7 linked regions of the Homo sapiens genome follow. The protein of the gene in region 4 purifies or fractionates together with the protein of the main gene of each other region. This does not show direct contact. Each region holds a gene or a part of one and is shown on either strand. Other genes may lie near its edges. The genes, in order: PAG1, BPIFB1, SLC35A1, PCK2, ZMYM2, GAP43 and PRCC.

The links.
Region 1: the proteins of PCK2 (region 4) and PAG1 purify together in Homo sapiens (affinity purification with mass spectrometry; one large-scale study listed by BioGRID and IntAct). This does not show direct contact.
Region 2: the proteins of PCK2 (region 4) and BPIFB1 purify together in Homo sapiens (affinity purification with mass spectrometry; 2 studies listed by BioGRID and IntAct, with this or other methods). This does not show direct contact.
Region 3: the proteins of PCK2 (region 4) and SLC35A1 fractionate together in Homo sapiens (co-fractionation; one large-scale study listed by BioGRID). This does not show direct contact.
Region 5: the proteins of PCK2 (region 4) and ZMYM2 purify together in Homo sapiens (affinity purification with mass spectrometry; 2 studies listed by BioGRID and IntAct, with this or other methods). This does not show direct contact.
Region 6: the proteins of PCK2 (region 4) and GAP43 purify together in Homo sapiens (affinity purification with mass spectrometry; 2 studies listed by BioGRID and IntAct, with this or other methods). This does not show direct contact.
Region 7: the proteins of PCK2 (region 4) and PRCC purify together in Homo sapiens (affinity purification with mass spectrometry; one large-scale study listed by BioGRID and IntAct). This does not show direct contact.

Annotation. Positions count from the first base shown.
Region 1 is NC_000008.11:80,979,232-80,983,549, forward strand, and holds part of PAG1 (phosphoprotein associated with glycosphingolipid-enriched microdomains 1), read right to left. Parts: intron 1,264-4,318; coding exon 1,204-1,263; intron 1-1,203. UniProt on the Homo sapiens protein: Negatively regulates TCR (T-cell antigen receptor)-mediated signaling in T-cells and FCER1 (high affinity immunoglobulin epsilon receptor)-mediated signaling in mast cells.
Region 2 is NC_000020.11:33,303,608-33,307,925, reverse strand, and holds part of BPIFB1 (BPI fold-containing family B member 1 precursor), read right to left. Parts: intron 3,969-4,318; coding exon 3,901-3,968; intron 3,081-3,900; coding exon 3,035-3,080; intron 1,925-3,034; coding exon 1,861-1,924; intron 1,016-1,860; coding exon 939-1,015; intron 1-938. UniProt on the Homo sapiens protein: May play a role in innate immunity in mouth, nose and lungs. Binds bacterial lipopolysaccharide (LPS) and modulates the cellular responses to LPS.
Region 3 is NC_000006.12:87,500,004-87,504,321, reverse strand, and holds part of SLC35A1 (CMP-sialic acid transporter), read right to left. Parts: intron 3,815-4,318; coding exon 3,655-3,814; intron 3,165-3,654; coding exon 3,012-3,164; intron 1-3,011. UniProt on the Homo sapiens protein: Transports CMP-sialic acid from the cytosol into the Golgi apparatus, functioning as an antiporter that exchanges CMP-sialic acid for CMP. Binds both CMP-sialic acid and free CMP, but has higher affinity for free CMP.
Region 4 is NC_000014.9:24,096,975-24,101,292, reverse strand, and holds part of PCK2 (phosphoenolpyruvate carboxykinase [GTP], mitochondrial isoform 1 precursor), read right to left. Parts: coding exon 4,156-4,318; intron 3,091-4,155; coding exon 2,906-3,090; intron 2,819-2,905; coding exon 2,615-2,818; intron 2,245-2,614; coding exon 2,057-2,244; intron 1,736-2,056; coding exon 1,573-1,735; intron 1,299-1,572; coding exon 1,080-1,298; coding exon of another isoform or gene 988-1,079; exon of another isoform or gene 540-987; intron 1-539. UniProt on the Homo sapiens protein: Mitochondrial phosphoenolpyruvate carboxykinase that catalyzes the conversion of oxaloacetate (OAA) to phosphoenolpyruvate (PEP), the rate-limiting step in the metabolic pathway that produces glucose from lactate and other precursors derived from the citric acid cycle.
Region 5 is NC_000013.11:19,993,227-19,996,726, reverse strand, and holds part of ZMYM2 (zinc finger MYM-type protein 2), read right to left. Parts: coding exon 2,808-3,500; intron 1-2,807. UniProt on the Homo sapiens protein: Involved in the negative regulation of transcription.
Region 6 is NC_000003.12:115,621,716-115,626,702, reverse strand, and holds the start of GAP43 (neuromodulin), read right to left. Parts: upstream 3,194-4,987; 5' UTR 3,014-3,193; coding exon 2,984-3,013; intron 1-2,983. UniProt on the Homo sapiens protein: This protein is associated with nerve growth. It is a major component of the motile 'growth cones' that form the tips of elongating axons. Plays a role in axonal and dendritic filopodia induction.
Region 7 is NC_000001.11:156,766,044-156,770,334, reverse strand, and holds the start of PRCC (proline-rich protein PRCC), read right to left. Parts: upstream 2,801-4,291; 5' UTR 2,564-2,800; coding exon 2,096-2,563; intron 1-2,095. UniProt on the Homo sapiens protein: May regulate cell cycle progression through interaction with MAD2L2.

The sequences.
Region 1 (4,318 bases), on a different chromosome or scaffold from region 4:
GAACTCCTATATATTTTACCTTCTTGTCCCAGATGGGATCACTTTGGCTGCAGAGTAGAAAACAGAGTGGAGGGAGGCCAAGGAGCTGCCAGGGATCAGCAGGAGGGGACTGCTCTGGCCTAGGGAGGGGCGGCCGCAGTGGGCTTGAGGGAGGTGGGTACACAAAGAAAACAGTTTGGAGGTGCAACTGATGGGTCTTGGCAATTGACTGTGTTGGAGGACAGTGAGGAAAAGGAAGTATCGAGATGACCCCTAGGTTTTGGTCTGTGCAACCAGATAGACAGATGGCAGGTCCATTCTGGAGGTAGAAACATGGACGAGGGTGGGCAATATCACCTAGGGAAAGCATTTTTGCTCTTTGAACATTCAACGTGGGTGTCTATGTCCATATTCTAATGCTTTACTCAGAGTCCTATAGGAAGTGATGTACCTGCATATGTACTTTGCTCTTGTACATGTACACAATTTACTCTGCTAGGAATTCCAGATAGAAGCTATATACAGCTAGATCAATTAAGGTGTTTAGCTCTCTGAGCATAGCTCAACATTTATATATATACATATGAAATATGTATATATACACATATTTCATATTATATGTATAATACTGGCTTTAACAATTTTAATGCTTCATTGAAAATCTAACTCGTGAATTTTGCACCCTGGTGCTTGGGAATATGCGATCTGCTCTTGTTGGCTGCTATGTCTGACCCTAGCTCCTGCCTGGAACTGTACTTACTGAAGTTAATCTGCTCTCAGCATCCAAATTTCCCCACGGAGACTTCCTCTTTCTGTCTCCCAGGCTGGAGCAAATTCCCTACACTCACCTGTTCTAATTTCCTGAATTTTCCAACCCATGATTCATTTCCTTCTGATGTGGTCTTCCTGACTGCTGACTGCTCCCACGCTGGAATTTTTCTCTTCTCACTCTTCTCCCCTGCCCTCTCTATTTTTCCTGACCCTGCTTTCCTGCTCAGTTTCTTTTCCTGAGCTGACTACTTGTCCTGCCATCCTTCTTGTCTGGCCTGCCCGTCAGTCTCTCCAAGCCATTATAAAACCAGCATCCCAAGTCTTCATCTCCAAACATAGGCATAGGAGAATATTTCAGCTCTTTCAAAGGGTAACATTACAGTGCATTTATTCAAGGGGGGAAGGTCTATTCTTTACTACAGTTTTCCCTTTTTAAAAAGAAACAAAACTTACCTCTTCTTCTGTGAGAGTGGGGTCTTCTTCCCGAGACTTGTATGACAATGAGCTAAATCTCTGTCAGAACAAACACAAGCCAAGGAAAGTAATTCAGCGTTAACAATCTAACCTTTCTTTTGCACATGTTTCCTCATAATCTGTCTAGCAACGTTTTCAAATGATTTTTATGGAACCACGAAGAAATTATGGGAAGAGAAACACTTATGCAATCTATTACCACATGTATGATGTTCGGGGATATCTAGTAGTATTATCCTTAGAGAAATTTCCTCTAATTTTGTATTTGCATCTGTAGGTACAAAGAAGCCAAAATAATTATTTAGACTACTGTTTCAATTCCTAATTGTCACTGAAGGATTGATCATCCATGGAGGATTAATATTTAAAAACATGGTGTTTCTTTATCAAATGCCTGAATTTTATACTTCTACAGTTTGCTGGCGTCATCAGAAAGATCCTTAAGTCATTTGGAAACTTCAAAGCTAATGGAGAAACTGACTCACATTTTGTGTCTTGCCCCCTGCCTGATTTCTGAAGGATTTTGGCTCTTGGTTTACTGATTCTCTAACACATCCCTTGTCTTAATTTTTGGTGACCTCAACAAACGTGTACCCTTCTAAATCCCGCCCTTCAGTTCCTTGACTTTCCCTTCCCCCACTGATTTTATGCTCTATCTGTGTCCCCTCTCCATGTCCACCCCCGGCCTCAGCACCCTCATGGCTGCACCCCAGGCCTTTCTAAACCACAGCCTCTCCACCAGCCCAAGTCCTTGCAACCCCTTTCAGACCAGCGCTCGTTGTCAAAGCTCACTCCTTCTGTAACCCAGTTCCAATGCTCCTTCAACACCATTGGGACCCATTCATGCTTTCAAAGTCTGCCCTTCTCCTTGGTGTCCTGTACTGCTTTACTAAGCTTAAGCTCCATAGTCAACTGCCAATCATACGTGAACTCAACCCTCTAGTGAGCCCTTAAAGCCGCTCCGTATCATCCGATGCTTCCCCAGTATACTCAGTCTCTGCTCAACTCACAGTCTACTTTGCATCTTCTCCTCTTCTCCCCAGACTTCCAACACCTCCTCACCTATCTTCACTCTGAGCAGATGATCTTGCTTCCTAGTTGGCTAAGAAAACTGAAGGAATCAGAAGAAATTTGTATCAACTCTTAGCCCCACCCTCAGCCTCTGCGTTAATCTATTTTCTTTCCTCCCTGTCAAATGGATTTTCCATGTTCCTCCTTCAGGTGATCCCCTCCTTCCTACACACTAGACCCTGTCTCCACATACCTATGTGTGAATACTGAGCCAGGAATTCTCCCAGTGTGGGATCATTCCCAGCCACATGCAAACATGCTGTTGTTTCTCTCATTCTAAAACCAAAACAAACCTAGTCCTACTCCGAAATTCTACCTACTCATTATCTCACTTCCTTTTTTTTTTTTTTTTTTTTTTTGACAGCGTCTCACTCTGCCATTCAGGCTGGGATGCAGTGGCGTGATCTTGGCTCACTGCAGCCTTGACCTCCCAGGCTCAAGCCATTGTCCCACCTCAGCCTCCCAAGTAGCTGGGACTACAGGTGCATACCACCATGCCCAGTTAATTTTTGTATTTTTTGTAGAGACGGGGTGCTGCTACATTGCCCAGGCTGGTTTCAAACACCTGGTTTCAAGTGATCCACCCACCTCGGCCTCCCAAAGTGTTACGATTACAGGCATGAGTCACTGCGCCCAGCCTGTCTCACTTCTTTATAGCAAAATCTTTTAAAGAGTGGTCTAAAAAGTCAACCGAACAATTTTTCTCTTCCTATTCTCTTTCTAATCCATTTCAGTCATGTTTCTGCCTCTACCATTCCACAGAGACTGCTCTTGTCAAGGGCACCAATGAGACTCGCCTTCCCTGACCTACCCGCTGCATTTGGCAGAGCGGCCCGCCACTCCTTCCTTCCTGGACACGTTCTTCACTGCCTTCCAGGACTCCACAACTTTCCTGTTTTTGTTTCCTACTTTGGTCTCTTCTGCTGGTTCCTTTTCCAGATCTCTATTCTTGGAGCTCTTCCAGGCTCTATTTACACTCACCTATCCTGTGACCTCACCCAATCTCATGACTTTTAAAACCACATTCTGTGGATGACTCCCACATCAGCAAATCCAGCCCTGGCCTTTCCTCTTTACCCGGCTCATCAATCCAGCTACCATCTGATAAGCTCTACTTGGAAGTCCAATCGGTATCTCAAGTTGAACGTACCCAACACTGACTGCTGGTTCTCCCCCCAAAACCTGCTCTGCCTGTATCCTCTTCATTTCAGTTAATGGCAATTCAATCTTTCCCACATGTTGGGCCCAGCCTCGTACTCATCACTGCCTCTTCTTTATCTCACTAAGCGTAGGATCCATCCGCAAATCTCTTGGCTCTGGCTTAGCTTTTCTCATCACCTCTGCTGCCTCTTCCCTGATCCAGGCCACCGCCATTTCTAATCTGGTTTATTAGAGTCACTACCCAATTGTTCTCCTCACTTCTACCCTTTATTTCAAAACTGGAGTCAGAGGGATCCTTTGAAAACATAGGCTAGGTTGTGCCATTCTGCTGCTCGGGACTCTAGTGACATTATTAGTGTTCAGACTATAAGCCAAGGCCATCCAGGATCGAGCTCTGGTTCTCTTTCTCCTCACTGCTGTCCTTGCTCTTCCCTCTCCACCCACAGCAGTCCCCTCCTCTTCCCTTAAAAAGCCAGTTGCAAGCTCTAGCTTCAGGGGCCTCACACTGGGCATCCCCTCTGCTTCACGTGCTCTTTCCACAAAAGCACAAACCTCACCCCCTTGGATCCTTTAACTCAAACGTCACCTTCATAGCTGGGCAGACCCTGACCACTCTATCCAAAACTGTACTCCCCACCTGTTTTCTCAGTTCCCCTTATTCGGTTCTATTTTTTTCTCTTATAAACTTTAAACTTTATGTCTGTCTCTTCCCACTAAGATGTAAGTTCCACAGGGCAGGGATTTTGTTCATGTACATGTTTTGTTTCCAGGACTAGAAGACTGTGTGGCACACAGCAGGTGCTTATTAAGATCTTTTGTTAAATAAATGAATGAATATTAAATACTTCAAACCCTCAACTCA
Region 2 (4,318 bases), on a different chromosome or scaffold from region 4:
TTTTTTGGGGGGGGGATGGATTTCACTCTTGTTGCCCAGGCTGGAGTGCAATGGCGTGATCTCAGGTCACTGCAACCTCCGCCTCCTGGGTTCAAGCAATTCTTCTGCCTCAGCCTTCCGAGTAGCTGGGATTACAGGTACCCGCCATCACGCCCAGCTAATTTTTGTATTTTTAGTAGAGACTGGGTTTTGCCATGTCGGCCAGGCTGGTCTCGAACTCTTGACCTCAGGTGATCTGCCCACCTTGGCCTCCCAAAGTGCTGGGATTATAGGCACAAGCCACTGAGCCCAGCCTCAGGTATTTCTTTATAGCAGTGTGAGAACGGCCTAATACGCTGTCCCTCTGACGGGACACTTCTCCCAGCTACCCACAGGGCTCACCCCTCACCTCCTCAGGCATTGGCTCAAATGTTACCTCCTCAGAGAGGCCCTCCCTGGCCACCCCATCTGAAACAGCACCCCCTTCCCTGACATCACTCTCTCCTCCTGAGCCTGCTTTATTTTTCTTCTCAGCCTTCCTCCACTCAGCCTGATGTTACATCTTTAGGGCTTGTGTATCTGCCTCTTCTGCTAAAAGGTAGGCTTGAAAAAGATGGGAGTGTTTTCCATTTGTTCATTTCGGTGGCCTCAAGCACTCAGAAGCATGGCTTGCCTATAGAAGACCCTCGAAAAATATTTAGTGAATTACTGAATGAATGAATGAATGAATGAATGACAAGGGGGTGGAAAAAGTGTACTGACCCCAGGCTAGGAGGGTTCCATCCTCAGCACAGCCAACCTTCTCACTTGCAGATGAGGAGGTGAGGCCCTGAGAGGGGAAGGGACTTGCCCAGGGTCACCTGTAGGCTGGGGTTGGAGTGCAGGCCCCACCTCCCAGCCAGGGCTCTCAGTGGCTGTGCCCTCCCTGGGGCAGGATGTTTAGGGCCACACCCACTCACCTTGGTCAGTGAGGACTCAGCTGCCTCGAATCCCAAGGCCTTCACCAATGACACTGGGACCCCAGATCTTAATTTGCCTGAAATAACAAATGTGGTCAGAAACTGATGGGCCTGGGGTGAGACTGGGCAGCCAGGGGCAGGCTCAGGGTTCCTGAAGGGGAGCCCCGGCCTGGCAGGCCTGATCAGACAGCCCCCTCTGCCTCTGCTCGCCTGTTCTCTGGCCCCAGCATTGACCCAGCCTCGTCTACCCTCCCTTTGCCTCTGGCACTGGCTTCTGGCCCCTCACAAAATGCAGTCCTCACATTCTCTTACGCTCTTGCTCAAGAACCATCAGGGGCTCCCATTATCCCCAGCAGAGGTTTCTATACTTTGAGATTTTTCCAGTCTAATAAAATAAAGAAATTAAAAAGGTGGAACTGTATAGGTTACAAACCCTTCCCACCCCTCATTCAACCTGGGGCTGAATTAGAGTGTTGGGCACTGACTGTGCCAGGCACCTCCTGATTTGTGCCTCTGAAGAAGGTACTTCTACGTCCCCATTTTACAGATGGAGAAACTGAGGCTCAGAAGGATTGTGCAGCTTGACCAAGGCCAGGCACTAGCAAGAGGGGGAACAGGGTCTGCTGAGGCGCCTCCAGTTGTCTCTTACACCTCTGTCATTGCTCTCATTGTCTGCTTATGCCTCTGTCTCCTTCCAGCCCTGCAAGTCTGGCCCACTGCTTGGTTCATCTTTACGAGCCCAGCCTCTGGCACTAGCAAAGGAATTGGGCTGAGAAGGTTCTTGGGAGGAGGCAGATTTTGAAGTAGGCTCTGAGGGATGGCTGGGAGATGAATGAAAGGGGCCCCATTCATGGAGATGAGGGCAGGGGAAGTAAAGCCAAGCCCTGGGGAGAGAGGGGGCACAGATGGCAGAGGTATGCACCATTCTGGTTCGGCAGCAGGATGGAGTGGATGATCTCAGTGATGATGTTTTTCAGAACATCAGGCTGTGAGAGAGAGAAGGGGCACTGTCACCCTGGTTGAGCATCTGAAGTTCCCCCCCATCATTCTTCGTGGGTGTGGCTCCTCCCCATGGGTGAGGTGGCTGGTGGAGATGTAGGAATTCCAGGTCCCCTGCTGATCAGAGCTGTGGGGGCTCCCAGGGACCAGATGGGCTGGGTTGGGGCATGAACTCAGCCGCCCCTGGGGCCTGGTAGATGGGGGGATTGGGGTGCATTGGAGGATGCCCCATCCTCAGGGGCCCCACCACTCTGTTGCAGCTGAATTTGCCCTGAGGGAATTTTGCCCTGCATTGCCTGAACTTCTGACTTCTGGAGGGAAGCCAGAAGTCCTGATTTGCATGTGGAACTCTCCGTGTTTTAAAATATTAGTCACCGGGCATGGTGGCTCATGCCTGTAATCCCAGCACTTTGGGAGGCCAAGGCGGGCAGATCATGAGGTCAGGAGATCGAGACCATCTTGGCTAACATGGTGAAACCCTGTCTCTACTAAAAGTACAAAAAATTAGCCGGGCGTGGTGGTGGGCGCCTGTAGTCCCAGCTACTCAGGAGGCTGAGGCAGGAGAATTGCTTGAACCCGGGAGATGGAGGTTGCAGTGAGCCAAGATCACACCACTGCTCTCCAGCCTGGGCGACAGAGCGAGACTCCATCTCAAAAAAAAAAAAAAAAAAAGTCAAAAATAGTGAAAAACAAATCATAAAAACCAGAGAAAACACGCCAGACTGAGGTATTGGGGTTCGGTCTGAATCCCAGCAGGAAAGGGCTGTCTAGGGGCACTGAGGCGCGTCTACGTGTGCAGAATGAGATTGTGAGTCAAGGGCACTTGTGTTCTAATTCAGGATCAAAACTTCACTGAAAGAAAGTGTGTATCTGTGAGTGTATTTGTGTGTGCGTGTGTGTGTTCTCAGCTGTGTCTGACACGTGGTGGCTTCTCTGTAAACACTCGAGGGAAGTTGGACTTTGGTGGAGACCGGCCAGCCCCCCATGGTGCTTCTGTGGGGACCTTGTTTGAAGCAAATCCTGGGCAATATCTGTTTTGAGAGTGGACCATTCCAGGCCACCCCCTGTGCCCTCAGGCACCACCTGTTAACACTTACTTGGAACCAGCCAATCCCAGAGTTCATCAGCTGGATCCGATCAGAGCTGCAATGGAAGATGCCTGTGAGAGCGGCCCCTGAAGTCCCACTCATTCACCATCCACTCATTCAACAGCGATTTATTGAGCACCTATTATGTGCCAGGCACAGTGCGGGCTCCAGTGAACCACATGAAGCCCTTGCGTCGTGGAGCTTGCATTCTAATGGCAGGGGTGGGGTGGGGGGCATAGAGGGGGCACAGAAAACAAATAGCAGTCCAGTGAGCAGAAAAATCAACCTCAGGAGTCAGGGCTGTGGTGGACAAGGAGGCCCAAGCTCCTTCAAAGGGCGCCCCAATTCCTGGCTCGACAGTTTGTTGCTATGTAGGATTGTGGGCACAGGGCAGCCAGATAGTCTGATTTGATATGTGCACAACTCATTTATATTAAACAGCCCAGCCCTATGTGGGCTGATCAAAAGAGCCCTGGGCCTGACTTGTCCCCAGAGGCTCCAGCTGGCAGCCCCTGCACTCACTCTGGGGCCACAGGAAAGTGGCGGGGAGGGAGAACAGGCAGGGTGCAGGAGGCAGCTGGAGCCCTGCACTTCTGTGCCGGGTGACTGTCACTGCCACGGCCTGGGAGGTGTCCAGAGTGGGCTGGCCGCGGCTAGGGTTTGCCTGTGCCGTGGCTGCTGCAAGGCCTACTTCATTTTCCTCCCCATTCCCTCACATGCAGTCCTTGTCAGCAGGAGCATCCGGAAGGACCTCCCTGCCTACCCTGGAGCCGCCTTCACCTGACAGCCACAAAGTCGGTGTTTAAAGAAACCCATGGTTACCAGGCGGGACTCATTTCCATCAGCAGAATCTTCATGATGATTTGTGTGTTTACCTGATGTTATTCAAGTTGAGTATAAGTTGGTCACCTTTGGTGTAAAACTGAGCTTCCGAGCTGGCTTCCTGCAACAAGAGAAGCCCAGGCCCCATTGTTCTCAAGAGGATCCGAGTGTGGAATTAGGGGTTATGCAGGGAGGCTCTGGGGTCTGAATCTCAGTTCCTGGCTCTGGGACCTTGGCAAAGGGTTTGACCTCTCTGGGCCTCACCTGCCTCATCTGTTAAATGAGATAGTACTTGCCTCCACTCCCCATTTAACAGATGACAGTCTAGGCTTGCTGTGGGGAATGATAATGATGACGATGACGACGACGAAAGCAGCCACTATTCATAGAGCCCTCACTCCCTTACCCTAGTGTGTAGGTGGCCCAGCTCAGGAAGTTTTCATATTCCATTTTTCTGGACACACTGATTGG
Region 3 (4,318 bases), on a different chromosome or scaffold from region 4:
CTTGCAAAAAATCCTGTAAGGCATTAAAGAAAGCTTTTTTTTTTTTTTTTCTTTTTGAGACAGGATCTTGTGGTATAATCATGGTTCACTACAGCCTCAACCTCCTCGGCTCAAGTGATCCTCCCACCTCAGCTTCCCAAGTAGCTGGGACTACAGGCATGCATCACCACATCTAGCTAAGTTTTAAATTTTTTTGTAGAGACATGGTCTCACTATATTACCCAGGCTGGTCTTGAACTCCTGGGCTCAAGCAATTCTCCCCGCCTAGACTACCTAGCTAAATAAATTTAAAAGACTATCAAGAAAAGTAGGTGAGTTAGTGTATATAAAGCATTTAGATAATGCTAGTATTTAGTGCATTATAAATGATTGCAGCTGTTATTGTTACATTGATTACCAGCAAAATGTTAGAACAGATTTAGAGATGACTTGTACTTAAAAAGCTTAATGGTCATCAGTGGAAAATAGTGTGACTTCACCAAGTGTGAAACATACCAGATTTCCTTACTGAAAGGACTCCTAATGTTAAGTGATGAGGGGAATTCCATAGAGATAATGTTTGGCAAAAAATGTGACAGACTTGCATATTATTGTTATTATTATTATTATTGAAACAGAGTCTCGCACTATCACTCGAGCTGGTGTGCAGTGGCGCGATCTCGGCTCACTGCAACCTCTGCCTCCCAGGTTCAAGCGATTCTCCTGCCTCAGCCTCCTGAGTAGCTAGGATTACAGGCGCCTGCCACCACGCCCAGCTAAGTTTTTGTATTTTTAGTACAGACGGGGTTTCACCATGTTAGCCAGGCTGGTCTCGAACTCCTCACCTGGTGATCTGCGACCAGCCACATAATATTTTTATAGACAACACAGAACTGTAGTGAGGATAAAGGTACAATCCGTAAGTGTGTGAATGCTCATACAGAAAAATGGTAGTTAATTGAACAAAATCAAGCTAGGCCATCAACCAATACCAACTTGCCAGGCATATAGATAAGCCACGTTAGAAACAGATCCTCCAGCCGTAGTCAAGTCTTCAGTTGACTGCAGCCCTAGCCAGTATCTTGACTGCAACCTCAAGCCAGAACCAGCTAGCTAAGGCACCCTCAAATTCCTGACCCATAAAAACTATGAGAGATGATATGTTCAGTAAGCAAGAAAAAGATCAAGCTAGAGAGAATTCTAAAGGTACAGCCACAGAACTCTGGTCCTGTTCTACCTAAAATTTTCATTAAAGACCCAGAAGGCATATTTTTTTTGACTCTGGAAAGCGTAATACCCAAAGGAGAAGCTAATAATGGGTAAGAACTGGAAATAACTCAAGGGGCTGAGCAATGACCCAAAGCTAACAAGAAGAGCTTAATAAATACAAACTCAACCTGCATTCTGGTTTAGAATAAGCCAGAGTTTGAGTTCTAGTGTCAATGAGAGTCTATTCCAGTCCTGACACTTGGAACCCACTTAACCAGTAGTGGAGGAGTGCATGGCAGTGCAGACAGATTGAGGGAACAGTGGGGTGAGAGGGATACAAGATACATTTGAGACAAACTATTTGGGTGACACAGTTACATGTAGTGGTTTATGATCAATTGTAAAATAGATACTTTGCCTGCCCCCCAGAAATTAACAGTCATGTACCACATAATGACATTTCAGTCCATGATGAACCACATATAAAACAGCGGTCCTGTAAGATAAAACTATATTTGTGCCTTTTCTATGTTTAGGTACGCTAAACTTACCACTGTGTTACAACTCGCTACAGTATTCAGCACAGTAACATGCTGCAGAAGTTTGTAGCCTAGGAACAATAGGCTATATACTGTACAGCCTAGATGTGTAGTAAGTAGTCTATACCATCTAGATTTGTGTAAGTATACTCCATGATGTTTGCACAACAGTGAAATCACCTAATGATGCATCTCTCAGAACCCTGAACTTACATTCTTTGTTAAGCGATGCATGACTGTATAACAAGTCTCCGGTATTCAGAACAAAGGGGTAATTACCAAACTGTGCCTCGTATTACTTAGACAACATTGGGAGACAGTGGGGTTTTAGGATATATTGAGAAATAATGACAGATGAATGCATCTAGGAGAAAAATATAAGGAAAAGTGTAGGGGCAGAAGGCAGGGATCAGGAAGTCTGTCTAGAAACCATATTATAGAAAGAAACAGTAGGGTTTTAATTGGGGAAGGAGGGGACCTGGAGGGTGGGGATATGATACTGTTCACAAGCACTGTACATCCCAGCCGCCTTCCATTCCTAAGAGAACCATAGTCTGTTTGCTAAAAGTTAGAGTAAATATTCAACTGTAGGAAACTCCTGACCTTCACAAAACTATTCACTGGCATCCCATTTCCTGTTTCTCTTTGGGGAAATAACTGATTGAGGCATACAATGTAAGAAAAAAAATCATGTATGTATCTTAGCGTTAACTCTTTAAAAATCTGTTATGTACCTTCACATTAACTCTTAAAAACTAAAGATAATTATCAATTATCAGTAAGAACACTCCTTCCCTTGTCATCCTGATCACTGACAGTAGGGAGATGTGCCAGAGACTGACAGTTGAGAGAGAAGATGAAAACTAGATGCAGAAAAACCTTGCCCAGTGTTTCTGAGATGTTTGAAAGAGGTCTAGAAGTTCTAAACATATACAGTATGGAAACTGGCACAGTTGTGGTCACAAGTTAGCTATTAACTAATTTAGGACAAGTTCCTTCACCTCTTTGGGGACTGTCATCCATAAAATGGAGGGGATGGAACACATTATTTCTAAGGTATGTTCCATCTGTAACATATTTTATGCATATTCTCCTCTGAGAAACAACCAATAAGTATTATTATCCCTAATAATATGCTAAAGAAAAAAGGCCTATCTATAAGGCAAAAGTTATTTTAAATCAAAGAAATGTAGTCATGCTGCATGCATCAATGTAACTGAACAGTATAAGACTTAAGGAAGTTTTCTATTTATGGGAAGTTATGGTGTGCATTTTGTTTCTTACCACCACTTTTGTAGCTTGGGCTGGTTTCCACTGTACAAGCGTAACTCCAGCACACAGCATAAAAACTGAAACCCACTGTAATTTGCTGAGTGTCCGGTTTAACATTAAAACAGTGCATAAAGCAGTACACGGAATCTTCAACTGGTAGGTCACCTAAAAAAAAGAGAATGAATTAATAAATTCAGTTAATGTTAGTCTCTGATACAAATATATTATTTCTGGTATCATTGATAAAATTATCAATAAAAAATATTTGATAATGGCCGGGCACGGTGGCTCACACCTGTAATCCCAGAACTTTGGGAGGCCGAGGCGGGTGGTGGATCACGAGGTCTGGAGATCAAGACCATCATGGCCAACATAGTGAAACCTCATCTCTACTAAAAATACAAAAAATTAGCTGGGTGTGGTGGCATGTGCCTATAGTCCCAGCTACGCGGGAGGCTGAGGCAGGAGAATCGCTTGAACCTGGGCGGCGGAGATTGCAGTGAGCTGAGATCACGTCACTGCACTCCAGCCTAGACGAAAGAGCGAGACTCCATCTCAAAAAAAAAAAAAAAATTGATAATATGATAAAGAGTTAATAAAAACTCTTTTTACCATAAAAGATTCTGTGCTTTTCATTATCATTAACTCCACTTACCTGGTACACTGCTGCATCCAGATTGCTAAGAGCTAGGAAAGCCATGTTGTTCTGAACAGCATACACTAACGATGGCACACTTAACTTCAACAGTTCCTTGGGGCTCCCCAAGACATTTTCTCTTAAAGATGCTTTGAATCTACCCAGACTACCAGTTTCTCTTTGAAAACAAAAGGGGGAGATGAGAGGGTGGTAAGGAAGAAAATTAAAGAGTATTATTTTAATAAGACTTCTTCAAACACAGGACAAGCATACTATGCTTGCTGTAATTTAGCAAACTAATAATTTCTAACTAGTTTTAGATTAAAAGAAACATACCAATAATGTATCCTCTTTAAAAAATTATAGTTCTGTTTGGGAAAATATGACAACAACTAGATTTACCACTATCTCTAGTCAAAGCTCTGAGAGATTCTGAGTATATTGAATAATGAGATTAGGAAAACTGTTGATATTACCTATAAAAAAATTCATCCCCTGCTACTTTAACTATTTCATCAAGTTCACCCTGATTACTTTTTAATTGATCAGTTTGCATATCCATTTTTATTTTTATATTTATTTTTGAGATGGAGTCTTGTTGTGTCGCCCCGGCTGGAGTGCAGTGGCGCTATCTCAGCTCACTGCAACCTCCACCTCCCGTGTTCAAGTGATTCTCCTGCCT
Region 4 (4,318 bases):
AGCACCCAGTGCAGAATCCTAACACAGGGTATTATTCTGGGAATTGAAGCTGGGGACAAGATGCCCTAGTTATGCCCCCAAATCTGGAGATGATGAAAGGGTTGGGGAACTAGCCTGTGGGGAAAGATGAAAGTTTCTTGGATTTCTCAGTTGGGTGGGAAGGCTGAGGGGGGCTTAATGATGGTGTTAGTAAAAATAAAGGGTGATTAGATGAAGCAAGGAGGGTGACTGCTAGGCCAGCCTGGCAAACCTGAATATAGGCTTCAGTGACTACAAGGCCAGCCTCCCCTCCCATGCTCTTCTTTGCCCCTGCCTCTTGGTGTCTGGACTGCCTGACTGCAGAAGGCCATGGAAAGAATACTGAAGGTCCAGAGTGCAGGGCTGAGGGAGAGGTGGGACTCCCAGGCGCCCAGGGTAATGACAGGATTCAGAAACTAGCTTCTGGGAAAGACTCAAGCACTGACCTGATTTTGTTTGTAGGAAGGATTGGGGTGAATGCTTTGGAGGGACAGGGGAAGGGTGACGGTAACAATACTGACCTTTAGACAGTGGTTATTATACAGGGGACAGTGGGAGCCAAGTGGCAGGAGGAGAGTTGGAGCAGAGGAGGCAGCTTTCCTCTTTTCCTAATGGGCCAAACTTTATGGATAGTGCTTGGAGCCCAATACCTTCTGTAAGAATGTTCAAAAGTCCTTCCTTTTCCTTTCATTAAAAAAAAATCCAGCCTGTATTTATTATTGAGAATTTACTGTGTATTTGTCAGTGTGATAAACCCTTTTTATGCACTATTTAATCCTCCAACAATCTCATGAGATAGGTACTATCACAACTACCCTCATTCAACTGATGTGGAAACTAAAGCTTAGGGAAGTTGAGCAACTTAGCCAGATCACAAAACCAGTGACTGGTGGAGTTGGGACATGAACTGAGATTTTGCCTGGGACTGGAAACTGCAAACGTTCATGACTTCTGTGCCTCCTGGCAGTCCTAGAAGATGGTTGGAGGTTGTGGAGAAAGCTTTTCCACCATTAAGGTGCTGAGGCCTGGAGGCTGTGCCACACCTTCCCCACCGCACATACCAGGTTTCCAGGGTTTGCCCAGCCAGGAGGTCACAGTAACACCAGGTGGAAGAGGCTGGTCAATGCCCTCCCAGTACACGCCACCATCACTGGTCTCAGCCACATTGGTAAAAATAGTGTTACTCTGGATTGTAGCCATGGCGTTGGGATTGGTGGTGGCAGAGGTACCAGGGGCAACCCCAAAGAAGCCGTTCTCAGGGTTGATGGCCCGGAGTCGACCTGTTAGGAGAAGTGAAAGAAAGGAAGGACCAAACAAGGAAAACTTGAGATGTAAGACCAAAGAAGGTCCTGCTCCACCCACCCCTGTCCTGAGATGGACCCAAGATCTGATGAGGAAAGGCTGTCTCTCGGGTGGCTGGGCTGCCAGAGGAATGGAGCAGGGTTGGGTGTTCAGGAAACTTTCTCACTGACAAAGTCATTGTGAACACTAGAGAGGAGACCCCGAGGCTCTGACAAGAGCCAGAACCAAGAGTATGATCTGAGAGTCCCTCACCTTCACTGTCAAACCTCATCCAAGCAATATCATCCCCCACACACTCCACTTTCCAGCCTGGCAGTGCAGGCCGCATCATAGCCAGGTTGGTCTTGCCACAGGCACTAGGGAAGGCGGCTGCCACATAGCGCTTCTTCCCTGCAGGGCTGGTGATGCCCAGGATCTGTGCATTGGGGAGAGAGGGAATAAGAAAGAGGTCACCAAAAGTCAGGGCATGGTCTGCATGGGGAAGGGCAGCTAGGGTCTAATAGGGAGGACCAATGTTTATTAACTATATAAGTGATTGCCCTGCCATCAGGCCTGGGTTAGTGGCAGGGGAAACCTCAACATTCAGCAGCCTGAGGCCAAAGCTTTGGGCCTTCAAGTAGAGTCCCCGCCCACCAGCCTGGCACCTGGCAGGAGGGAGGTGAGGCTGAGGCAGACTGGCCAGGCCCCACCCCTGCCCTGTCCCCGGCAGCTGCCCTGCTTCTCACCAGGCCCTCACCAGCATGTGCTCTGCCAGCCAGCCCTCATCCCGGGCCAGCCGAGAGGCGATGCGTAGGGCAAAGCACTTCTTGCCCAGCAGGGAGTTGCCACCATAGCCGCTGCCGAAGGAGATGATCTCCCGCTGGTCGGGCACGTGGCCAATCAGGGTTTTCTCTGGGTTGCACGGCCACTGGCTCACTGGCTCCCCTGGGGACAATGGGGTCATGGGGCTGCTGGCAGCAGCATCAGGAACTGGGGTGTCGGGGCCAGAGGGATCAGGGATTGGCAGGAGAGACACTTGGGAGCAGTAGCAGCACCAAGAGGTGGCTGAAGCCCCCCACCTCATAATAACCATCAGCTTCCATGCCCCTATTCTTGGACACGGATTTTTCTCAACCTAGTGCAAAGTGCTCTGCAAACACAGCCTTATCCCTCTGCTGGGACTGCTGCTCTGGATCTTGGGAATTAGGTTGCCAGAGAGGACAGGTTCTTAGGGTCTGTGGAGAGGTAGGATTTGGGATTTCCTCTGAGTACAAGAAGGCCTCTGTGTTCCCCTTGGGGCAGAGCAGGTGCTTACCTTGTCCTGTCAGGGGCTGGCCCACGGAGTGCAGACACTTGACAAAGTCACCATCTCCCAGGGCCTGAAGCACAGGTGTCCCCAGTCGGGTCATAATACGCATGCTTGCCACCACATAGGCTGAGTCAGTGAGCTGCACCCCGATGCGGGACAGCGGGGAGCCCACAGGACCCATGCTGAATGGAAGCACATACATGGTGCGGCCTGTGGAGGAAGGCATCCCCTGGATGAAGGGTTCCAAACCTGTTCACATCTTCCGTGCCCTTGCCACTGTGCCCCTGCCCTGGTTACCCTGCATGCAGCCTGGAAACCTCTCATCCACAGCTCGCTGGAAATCAGCTGGGGACATCCAGTTGCCCAGCTGCCCACGGGCCCCACCAGGCGGGAGTGGTACCGTGTCCCGCTGAGAAGGAGTTACAATCACCGTCTTGCTCTCTACTCGTGCCACATCCTTGGGGTCTGTGCGGGCCAGCCAGCTGGGGGAGAGGGGATTGTCAGGAAGATGGTGGCCAGCAGGTTTCCCTTGTCCCTAGACCCACTTTTTCAAGTCCAACTTTGACTCCAGGTCTTCTGTTGGCCTTATGTTTCCCCACCCAATCACATCTCAGTCCCTTCCTCCAGGCTTTGTCCCATCTAAGGGGTGTTCCCCAAGGTCCCAGCCCTCTGGGGGTCTCTGCCCCTGGCAAAAGCTCCCTGAACTGGTGAGGAAAAAAAAAAAAAGCAAAGGATCTTATTTATATCAGCTTCTTCATTTAACATTAAAATAAAATACAAACTACAAACTAGGCTGGGCGCAGTGGCTCATGCCTGTAATCCCAGCACTTTGGGAGGCTGAGGTGGGTGGATCACTTGAGGTTAGGAGTTTGAGACCAACCTGGCCAACATGGTGAAACCCTGTCTCTACTAAAAATACAAAAATCAGCTGGGTGTGGTGGCGCATGCTTGTAATCCCAGCTACTCCGGAGGCTGAGGCAGGAGAATTGCTTGAGACAATTCCCCGGAGGCAGAGGTTGTTGTGAGCTGAAATCATGCCACTGCACTCCAGCCTGGGTGATACAGTGAGACTCCATCTCAAAAAAAAAAAAAAATCCCAGTTTCTTTCTTTTTTTTTTTTGAGACAGAGTTTCGCTCTTATTGCCCAGGCTGGAGTGCAATGACGCGATCTTGGCTCACTGCAACCTCCGCCTCTTGGGTTTAAGTGATTCTCCTGCCTCACCCTCCCAAGTAGCTGGGATTACAGGCATGCGCTGCCATGCTGGGCTAATTTTTGTATTTTTTTTTTTTTTTTTCAGTAGAGACGGGGTTTCTCCATGTTGGTCAGGCTGGTCCCAAACTCCCGACACCTGGTGATCCACCCGCCTTGGCCTCTCAAAGTGCTGGGATTATAGGCGTAAGCAAATCCCAGTTTCTGGGTCTGTTTACCCCAAAGCTCTCATTCTTGTTCATTCCATTGGGATGTTCTAGTTAAGTTGATTTTGCCTTGGTGAACCCAAAGTGGCCTCAGTGCACCTATCCTGCAGGTTGTGGAGCCCAAGGCTTACCAGTTATTGTACTTGGGGAGCTTTCGGATGAGGCCCTGCTGCTCCAGCAGGGTCAGTGTGGCAGTATTCTCAGCCTCAGTTCCATCACAGATGTGGATGCCCTCTGGTTGGCACAGGCGGGCACTGTGCTCTACAAAATCTCGAATGCCAGTGGGAAGCTGGC
Region 5 (3,500 bases), on a different chromosome or scaffold from region 4:
TTTGTTTTTTGAGACAGAGTCTCAGTCTGTCGCCCAGGCTGGAGTGCAGTGGTGCAATCTCTGCTCACTGCAACCTCCGCCTCCCAGGTTCAACAAATTATCGTGCCTCAGCCTCCCGAGCAGCTGGCATGCACCACCATGCCCCACTAATTTTTGTATTTTAGTTGAGATGGGGTTTCACCATGTTGGCCAGGCTGGTCTCAAACTCCTGACCTCAGATGATCCGTCCACCTTGACCTCCCAAAATGCTGAGATTACAGGCTTGAGCCACCGCAACCAGCCCTGGCTAGTTTTTTTTTTATCTTTAGTAGAGACAAGGTCTTGCTCTGTTGCCCAGAGGCTGGTCTGAAACTCCTGAGCTCAAGTGATCCTCCTGCCTTGGTCTCCCAAAGTGCTGGGATGACAGGCATGAGCCACCATGCTTGGCACCAGCTCTTGTTTTAAATTATAGATTTTCTAAGCAGTCTTCAATAATCAGACATTACTCGACAAATAAGAAAAATAACTAGCAATTCATATAGCATTCTACATTGCCTAGATTTTAGTTACTTCACATTATTCTCCACAATCCCTAGGATAATGAGCCTAAAATGATGACAGAATGGGTCAGAGAGAGGCATGTGAGAGAGAAACGCCGATAGACACACACACACAGAGGAATTGGGGGAGAGGTTAAAGAGAGAGAGAGACATCCACAGACATGTCATGAAAAAGTCACAGAGTTTGTTTTGTTTTTGAGACAGGGTCTCACTTTGTCACCCAGGCTGGAATACAGTGGTGCAATCCTGGCTCACTGCAACCTCTGCCTATGGGGCTCAAGGAATCCTCCCACCTCAGCCCCCCAAGTAGCTGGGACCACAGGTGTGCACCACTATGCCTAGCTAACTTTTCATATTTTCAGTATTTTGTATTTTTTCACCACGTTGTCCAGGCTGGCACAGAGTTCTTATCACTTCCATATTTTAAAGTTTTCACAGAACAAGGCTGCTCACAGAAAACAATTTCAAATAGTCAAGAAAACTATCAACCTTCAAAAAAAAAGGTGGGGGGCTGGGTACAGTGGCTCACACCTGTAATCCCAGAACTTTGAGAGGCCAAGGCAGATGGATCACTTGAGGCCACGAGTTCAAGACCAATCTGGCCAACATGGTGAAACCCCGTCTCTACTAAAAATACAAAAATTAGCTGGGTATGGTGGCACACATTTATAATTCCAGCTACTAGGGAGGCAGAGGCTGCAGTCAGCCGAGATTGCACCACTGCACTCCAGCCTGGGCGATACAGCAAGACTCTGTCAATAAACAAATAAATAAGAAAAAAAAGTATTGCTTATTTATGCCCTTGAAAAATAAAAATAATTTTTAAAAATTTTTTAGTAGTAAAATGCTAACTAAAAGCTAAAGATACGTGGTCAAAAATAAACACGGCATTATCGAGTTGTAGACATTAAATATATACAGCCTTTTGCATGTCAATCATAACTTTAAAGTAGTTTTAGAAAAGAAAAAAAGGATGATATGTTTGGCTTTCTTCAAATGTGAGAAAAATAAAACCTTAGCCAACTCTTAATAAAAAATAAAATGGCTGGGCATGGTGGCTCATACCTAGAATCCCAGTACTTTAGGAGGCCAAGGCAGAAGGAATGTTTGAGCCCAGGAGTATAAGACCAGCCTGGGCAACACAGTAAGACTCCGTCTCTACAAATAATTTTTTTTTTTTTTTTTAATTTAGCCAGGCATGGTGGCTCACACCTGTGGTCCCAGCTACTCTGGAGGCTGCGATGGAAGGATCACCTGAGCTCAAGAAGTCGAGGTTGCAGTGAGCTGAGATTGTGCCACTCTACTCCACTCTGGGCGACAGAGAGAGACCCTGTCCCAAAAAATTAACTAATTAATTAAATTAAATAAGCACAGGGAAAGTAGAAATAAATCTAAATGCGGCCAGGTGCAGTGACTCACGCCTGTAATCCCAGCATTTTGGGAGGCTGAGGTGGGCAGATCACCTGAGGTCAGGAGTTTGAGACCAGCCTGGCCTGGCCAACATGATAAAACCCCATACAAAATACAAAAATTAGCCATGCGTGGTGGTGGACGCCTATAATCCCAGCTGCTTGAAAGGCTGAGGGAGGAGAATCGCTTGAACACAGGAGGCGGAGATTGCAGTGAGCCAAGATTGCGCCACTGCACTCCAGCCTGGGTGACAGAGCAAGACTCCATCTCAAAAAAAAATCTAAATGCAACTACTGTACAATATTACACTGTTCTTTAAGTGTGCTATTATATTAATCTTTTGGTTCTCTAATTTATATACTAAAACACTAGTAAAAATTCTATTAGCAAAAAGTAATGCATGACAAACAAGATATTAAATTATCACACTTCATTCTTTTGTTTGTTTTGCTTTTTAAATTTAGAGATGGCGTCTCGCTATGTGGCCTAGACTGGTCTCGAACTCCTGGGCTCAAGCAATCCACCCACCTTGGCCTCCCAAAGTGCTGGGATTACAGGTGTGAGCCGCCGTGCCCGGCCAAATTATCAGACTTTGGTGATGAATGTAAAGAGTATTTTTTTCTTAAATCCTTTAAATATAAAACTACTTTATGATTAACTTTTTAGTAATCCACAGAAAAATACTATACATGGTTTTACAATTCTTATTAAAATACCAAACTTAAGATAAAATTCAATATAATTCACATATTTCACATGATGAAACTAAACAAGGTAATACCAGTTACTACAATGAAAAAAGCAGCAGCCAAAAGTTTAAATTCATTTACATGAAGTAGAGTATCTCTTACTGCTTACCAGGATTATGATGAGTTGCAGATTCTCCATTCTGAAAAACGTCTCCTGCCACATTCATTCTACCAGGATTAAAAGGTCCTACTCCAGTCTTGGTCTGTGAAGTTAAAGATGGGGTGTATGTTTGTATATTAACACCAAAATTACTTGACTGCAGTCCGTTAGAGACATCTCCCAAGTTGGTATTCTGCAGTGATGTTACATGTGTAATCATTAAGTTCATATCTCGCCCGTCAGTATTTTCTAATTGGCCATCATTCACAGAGCTTACACCTGTTTCTAAAGTTGTAACATTAGCAATCTGAATTTCAGAGTCTGGTTCTGTGGTGATACCACTATTACCCATTCCTGCATTTACCTTACTTCTTGAAAAACTGGAAGTGGAGAAATCCACATCATTGGTTCTGTTTTTAGTCTCAGGAGGTCTTCGTTCAATAAAATTGGAGGAATTTTTCTCTTGCCCTTGATTTGTTTCCATGTCCTCTTCATCATCAATGACAATTGTCTCACTTACACTTCCCTTCTGAGATGCCAACTCTTTTGAGGAAGGAGTAATTTTGGAATCATTTCCTTGTAGTTCTTCATTTTTTGATGATGTAAATGTTATGGTTCTTTGATCAGCTACCACTGGTACAGAAGGTGGGGGAGGTTGTACAGGTTCGATAAAAACAACATCATCATCATCTTCCACTGACG
Region 6 (4,987 bases), on a different chromosome or scaffold from region 4:
AGTCATTATTTTTCAACAAAAGAAACACCTCATAGTTTTCTTGCTTTGTAGACATAAATCACACCTTGCCAAGTTTTTAATCATCTGCAATACACATGGCAATTAAGCTATTTAAAGTAAGCCCCAAGATATTTGAAAATCATAAGGCAATACAATATTAGGGATTATTTTATTTTATTCCTCCTTTGCCCACTCCTTTACCATATTCTCATCTCTACCCCACTCTCATTCTCTTCTTCCTGCTATAATAATCTATAGTGATAACTAATGGCTAATAGAGATCATTTATGCTTTCTTCTCACCCACTGGCAATGTATTCCAACTTAGAAATCCAAGGTTGCTTCTTTATGCCGCTCAAGTGGAAGAGGAAGGAAGTGCAAGCCCTTCAGCCCCCCTCCCACGTTTCTGCTGGATTTTATGGGTGTGGCAGAGCTTAGACCTTTGCAGGTTTTTGCCCTTGTTTTATTCCCTGTTAAGTACTACGATGATGAATAGATGCCAGCAGAAGGATGGGCACCACTGGATTTTGTCATAAATGATACAGAATTTCATCCACAAGCAGGCAACCTGCGTGAGACTTAAGTACTCATGCTACATAAATGCCAGTCAGTGTAGTGTGAGCCCACGCCCTGAATACACCATTTCCTTTAGTCTGATTGAATGGTATCCTAAATACTGGCTAATGTGAATGATACACAACAGTGGTTTATAAGAGACATGACCATTTCACACAGAAGTACACATTTATAAAATGCATGAGCAAAGTAGGACAATTTCTATACCTTTAATTTTCTCTTGAATATAAATGATGCTAAAACACAGAGAGGCATGTGGAAACCACTTACACATGCAACTGTAGCATATGAAGTATGTGGATGCTGTATACATTTACATGCGAATTTCTACAACTCTAAACACAATTTCAGCTTCATCACTTTGCACATCAGAGTGAATGCTTGGGGCTGTTGGTGAGATAGAGCCCCAGGGAAGGCAGCTGTCTTCATTTTGGGAAGGGAATTCCTTTAGCCCTAATTCCTTTTCTAAAAATCATACATGATTTCCTTTATTAAAGGAGATGTATGTATACTTGCATATGTACACATAGGGTGGGAACAAATTATGAACCTGAATATTTTTCTTTCCAAAATTAAAGCTTTTTAAGTGGATGGCTTTGGCTTACTTAGTGCTCCACCTTCCTAAATGTTATTTCCCCAGCTCACCAGTGAAATAACCTCAGGACTTTTCTTTGACAGTGTTCTTAACCCAGACACCTGTATTTATTACATTTATATATTAAAATGAAGGAGGACACAGAGAGAAAATGCCCTGGTTTGATAAAATGAGCCAATGGAAGCATCAATCTCTGTAACCATAGGGCAGTTTCAGGAGATGCTGCAAATACCGCCCCCAACTCAATCCCCCACTATCCGACTTTTTCCCCCAAATAGCCCCACACAATCCAGGATGTCTGCTTATTTATTTATTTATTTATTTATGCCAAATCTCTACTCCCACTGCTCTGACATTCTGCTTCAGTCTCCCATCCTCTTCCTGCTCCTTCTCCTTCATCCTCACTCCCCACCCTTCCTTCCAGGGCGCTGGCTAAATGTGCTAAGCTGGCAGGCTGTTTCTTCTCCACTCTCTTCCACCCCCTTCGGATTCAGGGAGTGTATTACAAATTGCCCAATTTCCAATACCTGCACTGGAAATTATACCCAAATTCCATCTCTTGCACCCCACCCCTAAGGCAATCAGTCTGCGAAGGGCTTCTTTGACCAAGATTGCCCCCACCACACCCCCACCCCCACCACAGTCAAGCATACGCACACACTCACCCGTATCCCACACCCATTTTTCTCTTTAACCTTTGCCAAAATCACTCAAATGCATTCCAACAAATGTTTGAAAGCTTCTTTTGGAGACTGCCATGGCATGGTCGGTTGCTGCGGAATACCACACTCGTCATTCCTTCCCACTCTCACCCCAATCAAGTTTCTAAAATGTCTTTCAAGAAATAAGCGAGCAATTGGAAATGGCTGTAAAACCTGGGCAGTGGGGGAGGGAAGGAGGGGCTCTGATTCTTGCTAATCTTGGATGTGTCCCTCTTCCTGATGAAAATGAGTCACCATACTTATTATCCAGGATGTTAGCCTGTCTCTGGTCACTGACAATCCCAGGAAAGAAGCAAGGGAAGGGGATAAGAGAAAAGACCTGGTTTCCAACAGGTAATACCCGGCTGTCTTTCCCATCCCATCGGAGCTCCTAGGGGCGTGGTCCACCCTCTCCTCCGACCAGCTGGTGCACAATCGGCTGCTGATCTTAGGAAGGGGATTTTCTCCTTCTGCATGGCCAATTTCTCCCCCAGCCCCAGTTGTCTTAGCTTCTCTTAAAAAAAAAAAAAATCTATCAAATCACAGTTTCATTCATTCATTGAAAAATAAATACTAAATAAATAAGACCTGCACGTTTTTCCATAAATACCTGCGCCCCTTCGAAGCTCATGCATGCACGAAATAAGGCATCTTCCGCAGCACATGTGAGAAAATTGTATGACAGAGAGGCAATACTCAGTTCTGAATATTATTTCCTCAACCCTGCTTTTTTGCAAATAATATAAAGAAATGCCTCCCCATCTTGTAGGTAGAGCCCACATCATCTCCCCCACACCCCTTTCTACGTCCACACCCTCAAGACCAGAGACCTCAAATGCTGAGCATTCACTAATAAGAAAAAAAAAAATTATTTCTAGCCAAACAGGCATGTTTTTTCTACCCTCACCCTAATTAGTAGCAGCATTCCAAAACCAGAGCATGAAAGACAGAAAAGAATAAAAGCTGGGATGCAACCATCAGTTACCATATGCTAAGGAAGCGCGAGCACCACGGCCAGAGCAGAAGCAGTAAAAAAATTGTTTGCCTTTACGGGGAAATACTGTACTCGGGTTATTTCACAACAGCAAGAAGTAAAAAATCTTTAGCTCTACCTGTTTGGTTCTTCTCATACAGCACAGCATGGTTGTCTCGTCCCTTGCCTTCTTCCTGCCTTCTCTCCTTTCCTTCTCTCTCTTTCTTATTCCCCCCCTCTCCACCTCTTTTCTGCTCGCTTGCTCACTCGCTCTCTCGCGCTAGCGCGCTCTCTCTCCCTCCCTCCCTCTCTCTCCCTCACACACACCAGGGCAGTTAGCAGCAACTGTAAGGTCCACAGCTATTGCTCATCGCACATGCTCGCTCCCTCTCTCTAGCGCTCTCTCTCTCTCTCCCTCTCTCTCTGGTGCTCTCTCTCCGCTGTCCTCTCTTCCCTCTCTTCTCCTTTTTTCTCCTTCCCCCCAATATCTATCTATCTGTCTTTTTCTTCCCTCTCTCTCCGTCTCTTTCTCGGAATTGTTCTCTAGCCTTCAGTGACTAATCACTTCCCCCAGCCCCTACCCCCATTCTAGACAGTCGCCCCCTCCCAGTCCCCTGCCAGCCTCATGAATATTTAAACACCTCCAATCTGGACCCAATTACCCACCGACTTTTCCACTGCATTGAGAGGGTGATGGGGTGGGGGCAGAGAAGGATATTCCAGTCAATCCAGGAGATATGATAGAGCATGTTTTAGGGAAGAGGGGCTTGAGGAATCCTTGTATTTCTTTAAGAACTCTTTTCCTCTTTTCCTAGTATTATAAAAGCAAAGAACAGCTATTTCTAAAGAGGAATTGTAGTCAGTCCTATACAATATAAGTCATATCTGCCATTACATTTTATGCATAGTTAATAATTGTGGAGGTTAATTTCCCTCAAAAAATGAAATAACATGTAAATATCATACACTGTTTATATATTCTTCTCAGTATACATATAACCTGAAATAAATACAAAGCTTAGATATGCACAAGCATATTTTATATATGTTCCAATATCCTGGAAAAAAATCCACATAAATATATTGCATTTTAAACATTCTAAGCACTTGAGCTCAGAAATAATAAACAATGTTTAAGAATTGGCATCCATATCTAAAATCACATGGTAGTTTTTTGTTTTTTCCTTAATGCACATATACCTGTTTGTAAATTGTGGTTTCTTCTAATTTTACTGAAAAAGCTGAGCACATTCAAACAGGTCTGTGTAATATTGACGGTGATCAAAATGATATTTTACAATTTGGGCATGAGAGATTAAAGTGAATTCATCTGAGATGAGAAGAAACGATAAGTCATGAAGCCTACTTCTTGAATTCCTTCTATGGCCTTTCATAATTTTGGGGGAGGAACATGTGACTCTTAAAGTGTGTATAGCACAATTTTTAGTTATTTATTGTTGAATGAGTTTGAGTGTGTTACTGAAGCTCTTTGCACCTAATTTTCTCATCTTTAAAATGGAGATAATAATGCCAATCTTGACAACATGTTTTGAGGACTAAATGATATAACGCATGCAAAGCACAACAGTCTCTCTGAGTGTATAATAGCTTTACTCCAGAGACTGTACTTTTCTGAAATTCGGGTGACATTTGCAAGTGAATATCTCAAAGAAGTTTTCAAACTATTTCTTGTTGTTCATTAGTGATGACAAGTACCCCTAATTAAACAGCTCATATTCTTCATAGTCCCTCCTAGACCTCCTAGACATAAACCTAGCTAATAAGTGGCAACTAGGCAGCTTATTGTTAGGCATATTTCAGGATCACTGAGCTCAATAAGTGCTTAGTACATTTTAACATAATTTAAGGTATATCTATTTCAAAATGGACTATCTCAGACAGGTACCTGGGAACGATGGTGATGATGATACCCAGGAGGTGATATTTAAAATTAGCCTTAATTATTCCTCAGGAGTCTTCCTGAGAGTGGCCTGCTTCAGATCCGCTGATTTGGTCTTTCATTCTTCTCAGTTTGCTTCCTAGTTTTCATATTTATGATTAAAAAACAGAATTAGTTTCTGAGTTTAATAATTTTTTAATGTTACAAGGAGCCCAGCCGCTTTCAGAACAGCCTTCCGTGATT
Region 7 (4,291 bases), on a different chromosome or scaffold from region 4:
TACCTTTCTGCAGGAATTATGTGTTCCGAGAACCAAAAGACCAACTTGAACAGAACAAAAATGGGAAACTCAACCAGCAAGGGCTAGGACTTTAATTAGCCATGTTACTGTTCACCTCAGAAATTTAGTGAATGCTTACAAAGGAGGGAGTGTTAGTCTTCAGAGTTTTCTGCCACCTCAGCCAACCCAAATGGCAGATTCTACGGCCTCTCCCAACTTTCTATAATGCTACCTTCACAGAGCTAGAAATGAGCTTTCCATGTCCATGTAGACTGTTTTTATTTGTCTCATTCAGGGATCTTTCCTTGTTCCAGGTTAAATCAAAGCCAAAGTAAGTTTCCATGGAGCAATAAAAGGCTTTTTTTTTTTGGATCCTAGACTTAGGATGAGAGACTCTCAGGTGTGAAAGAAGGGGGAAATAAAATGGAAGAAAGTGGCCGGGTGCTGCGGCTCACGCCTGTAATCCCAGCACTTTGGGAGGCTGAGGCGGGTGGATCACGAGGTCAGGAGATCGAGACCATCCTGGCTAACATGGTGAAACCCCGTCTCTACTAAAAACACAAAAAAATTAGCCAGGCGTGGCGGCGGGCGCCTGTAGTCCCAGCTACTCGAGAGGCTGAGGCAGGAGAATGGCGTGAACCCGGGAGGCGGAGCTTGCAGTGAGCAGAGATCGTGCCACTGCACTGCAGCCTGGGCTACAGAGGGAGACTCCGTCTCAAAAAAAATAAAAATAAAAAAAATTTAAAAAAAAAAGGAAGAAAGTTTCAAACAAGATTGGGAGGGAAACTCTGGAAACTCCTTCCATGAAAAATCCATATTGGAGTTCTTTCACTCACAAAATATCCATGGGAGTATTCAGTATGTGCCAGGCACTGTTTTAAGTACTAGGGTTATAGCAGTGAATTTTTTTTTTAATCCCTGCCTTCATGGAGTTTATATACTAGTGGGAGGACAGATGATGTTAAGTGCAATGGAGAAAAATAAAACAAAGAGCAATGGGGAGGAGGAGGTGATAGGAGGTTGCAATTTAAATACATAGTAGGCTAGGGAAGTCCTCACCGAAAACAGGCCTTTTAGGCCAAGTGAGGTGAGGGAGAGAACATTAGGATATCTGAGAGAAGAAATTTAAGGAACAGCAAGTTCAACGAATGGAAATGGCTCCTAGGCAGAGCTGGGAGTCTGAAGAAAAGCAAGGGCAATAAATTTCTCTCCGGTAAGTAATTCTAAGCAGTTCCTGCTCCAAGGCTTAATCTCTCCTTTATCTCCAAAGCCCTCACTCCAGGAGCCTTGTATTTTTCCACTGTCACATATAGAAACAGGTAAGACTCGCTGCCTCTTCTAGAAACAGTACCCAAGCATCCTAACTCACCTAGCTTTGACCATAGCTAAATGATGAATATGAGGCACAGATCTGAGGTTCAGAGAGACTGAACCTTAATCTTAATCTTCACTCTGCCCTGTTACCAGGTAAAATCGTGCATGCTGGACACCTGTTTCTCATCTGTAAAACAATAGTATGTTACCTCCCAGAGCTCTGTAATAATTGAAAGAAAGGACCAATGAACGGCAAATGATCTGCACTAAACAAATATTCGATTTCTCCTCTAACTCCCCTCAAAAATAGAAACCAAGATTGCTATCATTTTCCTCCAGGCCTGATGCTTTTGAGTTCAGAGGCAAGGAAAAGATTTGTCCCAGATGTTCGGCAAAGGTTCAGGAGCCCTGTCTCCTGTCATTCTTCAGGTGCCAGATTTCATCCTGTTCTCAGTAGGAGGAAAGGGGAAAAAGCCGGACTGAAGTGAAGATGCAAAGAAGGGGGAGCGGATCCAAGTGTCCCTAGGCCTGTCAGTACCAGGTGATGATGACATGTGGCCTTCTGCAGGCAAGCCCAGCTTCAGGAAACCCACATGGGCAAACACCCAAACTCCCCCAAGTTGACCAACTTCAGCTCAATTAATCGCATTATAAGAGGATTCCAGTGGCCTTGAATCCACGGATGCGTTTGTAGGAAGGAGTTCTGAAATCTCCACATGTCCCTCCTACAGCCGACTCAAACCCGATGGACAGTTTGGGGGTGCCTTCCCCGGATACTCACATCTCCCTTATGCAACTCCGGCGCCGCGATCTTCACGGGCTCTTTCCTCTTCTTTGGCTTGGGAAGCCCCAGCGGGGGACCGGCACCGCCAATTGGAGGGGGCAGATTGAGGCCAGGGCCTCGGGGCGAGGGCAACCCCAATCCCAGTCCCTCCCCAACTCCCGCCGCTTCAGCCGGGCTCACGCCTGGAGGTGGGGGGAAGCCTCCCAGGCCGAAGGGCAAGGGGGGAGGAGGCTGAAGCCTGGGGTCTCCGGTGGGTGGGGGAAGCAACAGCGGCGGGGGAAAGGCTGGCGCCAGCATCTGAGGGGGCGGAGGCAGCAAGGCCGGACCCTTGGGCGCAGGGAGAGAAGCGAACAAGCCCCCTAAAGCGGGCCCAGATGTAGGAGCCACCGCCTCCTCTTCCTCCGGCTCGGGCTCAGCCTCATCCGGCTCGCTCTCATCGCTGCTGGCGTAAGCAACCAGCGACATGGCGCCTCCCGCGTTTCGGGCGCCCTTGCCGGCAGATGAGGCCTACTTGAGACCGGGGATGCCCGGAGGCCTAGTAGGCCCCGCCACCTGGCGGGGCGGGGAACCGAAAAGTCCGCCTGCTCCGTACTCTAGGGCTAGCCCCGGCAGAAACTCATGGCTACGGCTGATTTCCACCGAACAAGGCGTACCTCTTCACTTAAGCTCCTAGTCCCGGGCAACTACACACAGCTAATGGCCGCCGAGTCACTCCGCCTCCTCCTTGCCTCACCAATACAGGAACTACAACTTCCAGAGAACACTTTGGACACAGCCCGGTTCTTTGCCGCAGGGATCTCAGCGCAAGGCACGGCGGGAGTTGGAGTCCGAGGAAGGATTTAGGGGCGAGCAAAGGGAGACAGGAGAGAAACCCGCCTCTGACGCAGGGACACCTGGGGTGAGTAGTTTTTTTCGTCGCCTAACAATTCCGAGGTGACTACAAGCCCCACCGGTCACCACGGCAGTCACTGAGACGGACAGGAGAGCATTTCGGTACTTGAAGTTCCCTAGGGTAGCCCCTTGGCCACTAAGATTTCTGGGAGATATGATGCTCTTAGAAACTGCAAGTGATGTCGGGAACGAAAGGGAGTCTGGGAAGCTGGCGGATTGAGGAAAATTGCTTAAAGGCAAAGTGATCTGTAAATGAACTGGTGAAGCTTCCCAGTCGGCTGGGACTGGGAATTAGAATAAAACATCCCAAAAAGAGCAAGGGCCCAAGGGACCCGTACGAAATTGGGCTGCAAGCCAGAAAGAAGCGAGGCTGCAGGTCTAATAATAAGCATCTAAGAGTTGAAATAAATGTGACGTAAAAGGGAGGAGGTGATCTCCCTCACCAGGATCGGGGTGCACATCCAGGAACACACCTTACCCTGGAGCCTGGGGCCTGGCCTCCCTCTGCAGCAACCAGTGAGACAAAGATGGGCAAGGCTCTGACAATCCGGGCCAGGTACTTGAGGTTAATCCCTTCTCAGCTCAGTGGGGTAAAGGGCGACCGTTCTGAGGAATCACTTGAGTCCGTCCTACCTGGCTGTGCCTCCCACCTATCCATTTGCAGATGTCCTTTACATTCCTTTACGTCTGTGAGTGCTGCTTCTTATGGCTTTGTATGTGACTTTCTTACATCTGTCTCTGTAAGTGCCCTTCCTTTCCATCCATGTTTATAGGAGTCCTTGTCCAGCCCATTTATGTCTGCTTGTGATGATCTGCTGTGCGCCAGTCCTTCCCTGTCCGCTTGTGATTTTGTATCCTTTTCTTGTTTACCCATCTCTGCCCCCTTCCTGTCTGCCTGTGACTGAGTGCCCTCTACTTGTCTGCCCTGTATGTGTGTGTCCTTTACATGCTAATTCATCTCTGTGTGGGCACCACCTCCCTGTTCCCAGATTGCAGAAAATTCTGTTGAGCGAAGCCAGAGAAAAGGCTGTTGAGGTTTTGGGAGGAGGCTGAAGAGAAAATTGGAAAGGTTGATGAGGAGGGACAATGATGACCACAATGCAGAGAGACAGTGAAAGGCCCAAGCTTGAATCCTCTATCAGACGAGCCTGATATGGGGCACCTCCTCCCCAACCTCTCCACCCTTCAGAGACAAACTCCATGCTGCCTTCTCCATGAAGGCTCCTTAGAGCAATCTGTGCTCAAACTTTAATGTGCATAAGCATCACTAGGAAAGCTTCTGAAAAATATAAATTCCTGAAA